Homo sapiens: one gene and its partner. The protein of the gene in region 1 interacts with the protein of each later gene in a biochemical or structural test. Each region holds a gene or a part of one and is shown in the gene's direction. Other genes may lie near its edges.

Region 1 (3,039 bases):
CGCCTCCCTTAGCCCCTACTCTCATATGATTCCCAAACTCTGTGAGCTTGGGAGCCTAGGCTCAGGAGCCTGGAGATACAAATTCCAGCTCTCTGAGAGTGGTTGGTCAAGATACTCACTTCTCTTTCTCTTTTTTTTTTTTTTTTTTTTGAGACAGAGTCTCACTATGTCACCCAGGCTGGAGTGCAGTGGCGTGATCTTGGCTCACTGCAATCTCCGCCTCCTGGGCTCAAGTGATTCTCCTGCCTCAGCTTCCTAGGTAGCTGAGACTACAGGTGCCTACCACCATACCCGGCTAATTTTTGTATTTTTAGTAGAGAGGGGGTTTCACTATGTTGGCCAGGCTGGTCTTGAACTCCTGACCTTGTGATCCGCCTGCCTCGGCCTCCCAAAGAGCTGGGATTACAGGTGTGAGCCACTGCACCCGGCATCTCTCTTTTTTTTTAATTAAAAAGTTTTGTGGGGAGATGGGTTTGCCCTAGCTGGTCTCAAACACTTGGCCTCAAGCAATCCTCCTGCCTCAGCTTCCCAAAGTGCTGGGGTGACAGACGCGAGCCACCGCACGCAGCCAGTACTCACTTCTCTAAGCCTCAGTTTCATCATCTATAAAATGGGTGACTAAGAGTTCATCCCTCTCAGAGTTGCTCTGAGGATCATTAGAAGATGATGTGGGTAAAAAGCCCCCAGCATACAAGAGGGCCCCAGTGGATGGAAACCCTGTGAGACCTGCTTGCTCTCCATAGGTGGGTGCGTCATCTCATTACCTGCATCTCCAAGTACCAGTCTCCAGGCCGGGCCCCCCCACCCCGAGAGGAAGGTAGGTGTCTCGCAGGGTTGAGTGGGAGGAACCCTCACCTGAGCCTGTGCCTTTCCTGGGATGGGGGCTAGGAACTCAAATGCCCTAGGCCACTCCCTGGCCTCCCAAAAACCCACTGCTGCTCCTCACCCCAGACTGCTACAGTGAGACCGAAGCAGAGGACCCGGACGATGAGGCTGGGTCCCACTCAGCCTCGGTGAGTGGGGGGCTGCCGGGGGTAGGAGGTGGGGATAAACAACAGGGCGTGGAGCTCAGACAGAAACCCTCTGTGCTTTCCACCCTGCCTGCAGCCCAGCCCTGCTCAAGCTGGGAGTCCCCTCCATGGAGACACATCACCTGCAGCCACCCCCACACAGCGCAGCCCACGGACCTCCTTTGGCTCTCTGACAGGTGCTGGGCTGGAGTTGGGAGCTGGGCTGGGGGCTGGGGTGGGCACATCCTCATCCTGCTCTTCCCTCCCACAGACAGCAGTGAAGAGGCACTGGAAGGAATGGTACGGGGGCTGAGGCAGGGTGGCGTGTCCCTCCTAGGCCAGCCACAGCCCCTGACCCAGGAACAGTGGCGGAGCTCTTTCATGCGGCGCAACCGAGACCCTCAGCTCAATGAGCGAGTGCACCGTGTGCGGGCGCTACAGAGCACACTCAAGGTCAGCTGGGGGGCTCTGGGCACAGCAAGGGACTAGGCTCTGGGCTTCAGGCTTTGGTTTGCGGCTGTCACCTCCACCCTGGGCACCAGACTCCAGACTCCAGACTCAGCTCCGGACCCTGGGCTTAGCAGCTGACAGCGGGCTCAGCTGTGGACTGGGCCAGGCTCTGGGTTCCGAGTGGGGATTTGAGTCTCACCTAGGCTCCTCGTGCCACGCTGGCCAGGTGCTGGCTTCCAGGCACCGGACCTCCGGAGTGAAGTCTGGCCTCGGGCTCTGCCCACTTCCCTGGGTGATCATGGTCCCTTAGCCCCTCCTCTCCACACAGGCAAAGCTGCAGGAGCTGCAGGTCCTAGAAGAAGTGCTGGGTGACCCTGAGCTGACAGGAGAGAAGTTCCGCCAGTGGAAGGAGCAGAACCGGGAGCTGTACTCAGAGGGCCTGGGGGCCTGGGGAGTGGCACAGGCTGAAGGCAGCTCCCACATCTTGACCTCTGACTCCACAGAACAGTCCCCCCACTCCCTGCCCTCTGACCCTGAAGAGCACTCCCATCTCTGCCCCCTGACCTCAGAGAGCAGCCTCCGACCTCCTGACCTCTGACCCTGGCCAGCACTCTAGCTCCTGACCTTTGACCCGAGGGCCACCTCAACCCCAGCTTCTGACGTGTCCAGGACAGAGCATCCCTGGATTCTGTTCAGGGTGGGAAGTAGTACTGCTAGTCATGGTCTCACCCCGAGCTGACCCCTCTGCCTGGGCTTTGTGCCACCCTCTCCCTTGCCAAAGAAGAAACTCTCCCCCCAAATCCTCCAACCTCTGGGGCCACAGCCCTGCCCCTCCAGTTCCTTGGCAGTTCTCCCCCAAACCAGGTCTGTACAGGTGTTCTTTATTTTACATGAGGGCTACTTTCCAACCAAATAAAGTCAATTTTTCTAAGAATGAGTCTACATGTAACTTTACTTCCATATTCGAATTGGAAATCTGCCCCCCTGTGGGGACTGGGGTGAGTGCTCTTGGCCAGAGGGTGGGTGGCAGACCCTTCGTGCAGCCCGTTGGCCTGGGCTCTGTACCCGAGCTCCAAGCCTGCCAGGATGGTGGGGGATGACCCATGGCTAATGAGGGCTCCGACTCATGTCCACCTCTCCCCAGCTCTTTGAAGGCTAATGGTGATCTCCTACCCCATTCCCGGGGGGCACACAATGAGAAACTTCCACTTTGTAGATGGGGAAATGCACTTTGCACGGAAAGGTGGTGGGGACAGTCCTGGAGACTGGGCTGGTAGGACAGGGCAGCTGGTGGGGAAGGGTGCAGGTTGAGGTCTGCCCTGGGAAGGCCCTGGGGAAAACACTTCTCTCCTTCACTCCTCATTCCAGCCTCACCTCCACCTCCTGGATCCAAGGCAGGGACATGTCCCTGTGACTCCATTCAGGCTGCACGGGAAATCTGACCTGCTCCCATCAGCCTCTGACTTCCAACCCCAGCCCAGCATCCCCACAGCATCCCCAGACTTCCTCTGTGGGATGCGGAGGAGGGCCAATGGGAGGAGCTTCTCTCCAGGTTGGAATTCCTCAGTAGAATGCAGAC
Region 2 (3,745 bases), on another chromosome or scaffold:
AAGAACTGGATACCATTTCAGTCACACATGCTTGCTGACAGTCACTGATATGGTAATGCCTCCTGTACACATAGCTGACTCTGAAGACTGCTAAGAGGGTTTGGGTCTCTGCTGTACAGGACCTTGGCAGCCTGCAAGGAGATGACTCACATGGAAGTCCCCACACAAGTGCACCCAGTGTGAACTTTGGAAGCATCGGCCCATGCTCAGGCCCACAGGTAAGATGGCCAGGAGCCCCTAACCTTGAGGAAACTTGAACCACAGAGCTGCTGGCGAAGGGGGTGGGTGAAGGTCTCATGTAGCCTGTGTGATTCAGGCAGAAGTGAGAAGGACGGGTGGGAACCCACCAAGTGGACGACAAGCTGAAGGGCTCCCAGGGAGCAGACACTTCAAGGGCCCCAAAAGGCCAGGAGAAAGAAAAAAAAAAGCCGGGTATGGTGGCTCATCCCTGTAATCCAGCACTTTTGGGAGGTTGAGGCAGATGAATTGCTTGAGCCCAGAAGTTTGAGACCAGCCTGGGCCTGGGCAATGTGGCGAAACCCTGTCTCTACAAAATATACAAAAATTAGCCGGGTGTGGTGGTGCAAGCCTGTAGTCCCAGCTATTCAGGAGGCTGAGGTGGGAGGATCACATGAGCCCAGGAGGTGGAGGCTGCAGTGAGCTGTGATCGTACCACTGCACTCCGGCCTGGGGAACAGAGTGAGGCCCTGTCTCAAAAGGCCAGGAGTGGAAGACAGGCCCTAGCCAGGAGGTTTCGCGTGGCTGGCAGGGGCCTTATGAGAAGGCTGTTGCTGGGAGGGGCCTGCTGCAGATGGCTGCGGCAGACCACGGAGCTTAGCCTTCAGGATTTAGATCTGGGGATGACAGGCTCCTGTGTGCTTGTTGCGGAGCCGGGAGCACAGGCACCAGAATGATCCCAGGGCTCAGCTCCAAGGCTCCGCTGGGCCTGTGGTGGGGCAGTGAACGTGGACAAGACCTGGGCTTCAGAGGAACTTGATGACCAGGAGCCGTGGTTACCGCCTGTGCCCTGGCCTTCCTGCTCTTCAAAGGGTGTGTTCTGAGCTGAGGCGAGACCCACACGAAATCCGAGCGGGCTCCGGAGTCACCAGACACCTAGGGAAGTATGGAAGGCCCGGAAGGACACACACAGCCGGGTGAGCCCCGCAGGGAGCTGTGCAGTCTCAGGTCGTCCAGTCCTGGGGCTGCAGGCCAGTTCTCCAAGCAGGTGGTCCTGGAGGCAAGCTGGTTTTGAAAGTAGGTTCTGAAAATAGGTCAGTCCAGGAAACAAGCTCTGGAAGTAAAGAGATTCGGAAAGCAGGTTCGTTCTGGAAACAAGTTCTACAAACAGGTAGTTCTGAAAGCACGTGGGTTCCAGAGGCAGGTGCTAGAAGGATGTGGGTTCTGTACGGAGGTTCTGGAGGGAGGCGGGTTCTGGACGGAGGTTCTGGAAGGAGGCGGGTTCTGGAGGCCGGTTTTGGAAGCAGGACGACACCGACAGAGGCGCCTCGGACTGGGGCCAGGCCTGGAGCCTCCGCTCCGCGGGCAGAGAGAAGAAAGCAGGCATTGTCGGAGGACTCACACAAGCACTTGTCCCTAACAAAACCGTTTTTAAAAACCCCATTGTGAACATTTTTGGAACAAGCCTCTTAGAGGGTCCCGTTGCCGGGGTGACAGGACGAAACGGCGCGAGCGGGCAGACTCCTGGAGTCCCCGCAAAGGGAGCCGAGGAGCTAGGCGCGCCGAGTCCAGGTCCGCCCTGACTCTCAGCTTGGGACGTTCCGTATAGTTTTTTTCTCCGTTTCCCGAACTTCTCCCGCACGCTCAGCGGCCGCCGCGGCGCATGCGCAGTACAACCTGCCAGCCAGCCGCGGGCGTTCCGGCCGCGGTTGCCAGGGGTTACCGTCCCGCGGGCGGGCGGAGCTGGCCGTCCAGAGCCCGCCTTCCTGGAACTCTGGTTGGCTGATATAGCTGTCCGTCGAAGCGGCATTGCCGCCTATTGGGCAATGGCCAGCTTCGCACGCCAGACCCGTGCCCCGCCCAGCCGCGCCGCGGGCCGCCCCCACTCAGGAGGGACAGTCGGGGACCGGCGCGGGCACTCAGGAGCCCGCGGCCCAGGTGGTGCGGGCGGCCCTAGCCCGGCTGCGGAGCGCTGCGCGAGCGGCGGGCTGGCTGACCCCGAGGGACCCCCAGCGCAGCGGGTGCGGCGATGATCCTGGAGGAGAGGCCGGACGGCGCGGGCGCCGGCGAGGAGAGCCCGCGGCTGCAGGTGCGCAGAACTGGCGCGGCGGCGGGAGGAGGGGCCCGGAATCCCGGCCTTTTCCTGCCCCCCCTCGAGGCGCGTTCCGGGCGCCCCCCTCCTACGTCTCATTCGGCCCGGACGCAGGCAGGGAAACTGAGGCCAGAGCCTGCGTCCCTCCTCCTCTGAGCTCGGTGGAGGTGCTTCCAGGCCACTCATGTGAGCCGGGAAATGCGGACAGCCAAAGTCTGGATCATCCTCACCGCTGAAGCGGGTTGGGGGGACGCCCTCCTCGTGTCCCCCTTCTGGGCGGATGTGGGGCTGGGCTCTGTGAGCGCCCTCCCCACACCCGCCATCGTGTTCCTTTCCGGCACCTGTACAGCCTCCTTCCCTAGTTCGGTCCTCCCTCTGCATCCGCTCAGGAACTGCATGCCCATTGGGTGCACTGGTAGCAGCGGGCAGCGAAGCCTCCTGGGTATGGGAAACCGAGAGAGGTCTTCCCGGCTGGCCTCTTCTCACTTCCCAAACCTCCTTCCCTTCTGAAGTCCCTAACCCGGGGTGCTGACTGGGCAAGTGGGAGGGGTGGGCAGGGCTGTGGAGACCTGCTGAGTCTGTGCCTGGGAAGGAGGGGACGTCTGTGGGCCTTGCTCTGCAGCCCAGAGCCTGCTTGTTCCCTGCGGACCAGCTCGAGGCTGCCCCAGTCCTCCTGCCAGGCCCTGGGCGCCCACGCCCGCCACGGGCTTTCAGCCGCGGGCTGCTCCTGCTCCTCGCCCCGGGTGAGCCTTTGATAGCGCGCGGCCCTCCTCCCCTCTGGGACGTCAGACTGTGTTGTCCCTGGGCTGGTTCTACTCGGCTTTGGTGTTTGGGGTTAGGTCTCCTAGAGGAGGAGGCGGTGCTATCAGCCAGGGTTTGGCTTCAGGTCACTGGGCTGGTGATGCTGACCGTAGCCCTCAAGGACGCCCTTCTTGCCCACCCCGAGGCGTGCCAGAGGCTGCAGCACCTCCTGGGCACTGGAGGGAAAGAGGCAGCCTGTGCCTGCCCCCTATGAACTTGCTCTGTCAGGGCGGCCATGCCTGCAGGTGGCCTGGGACGGCACATGTTGTTTTGGGTGGAATGTTTGGGAGGCTGTACAAACAAGATGTCCCAGAGGGCTCCGGAGGTGACGCTTTTCAGGCTGGGGGCTGTGCCTGGGCTCCCTGTCCTGGCCCTCCCTGGGCTGCCACCTTGGAAAGTTGGGGAGAAGCTGTTTCCAGGCTGCCGTGTCTCTCACAGCGTCCAGAAATGACCCCACAGTCAGGGTACTGGGGAGGGGCCCGTGGGAGGTGGCAGTGGGGCGGAGGCAGGCCCTGTGTCACACGCGCACCACTCAGGCTGTCCTGCCATCTGGAAAGTCTTCCCCGATGCCTGCTGCCGGGCTAGAGTGAGGCCTGTTCCACCCCCATCAGGCTGGCCCCCAAACTGGCCCTAAAGCTCAGAGTTCAGTGGGTCAGGGGTCGGTCGTTCATCCAC

The links.
Region 2: the proteins of CNKSR1 (region 1) and RHPN1 form a complex in vitro, tested with the Homo sapiens proteins (one study listed by BioGRID).

What each region holds. Positions count from the first base shown.
Region 1 is NC_000001.11:26,187,491-26,190,529, forward strand, and holds the end of CNKSR1 (connector enhancer of kinase suppressor of ras 1), read left to right. Parts: intron 1-743; coding exon 744-817; intron 818-951; coding exon 952-1,013; intron 1,014-1,107; coding exon 1,108-1,207; intron 1,208-1,281; coding exon 1,282-1,463; intron 1,464-1,788; coding exon 1,789-2,058; 3' UTR 2,059-2,394; downstream 2,395-3,039. UniProt on the Homo sapiens protein: May function as an adapter protein or regulator of Ras signaling pathways.
Region 2 is NC_000008.11:143,366,782-143,370,526, forward strand, and holds the start of RHPN1 (rhophilin-1), read left to right. Parts: upstream 1-2,094; 5' UTR 2,095-2,206; coding exon 2,207-2,266; intron 2,267-2,298; exon of another isoform or gene 2,299-3,012; intron 3,013-3,043; exon of another isoform or gene 3,044-3,745. UniProt on the Homo sapiens protein: Has no enzymatic activity. May serve as a target for Rho, and interact with some cytoskeletal component upon Rho binding or relay a Rho signal to other molecules.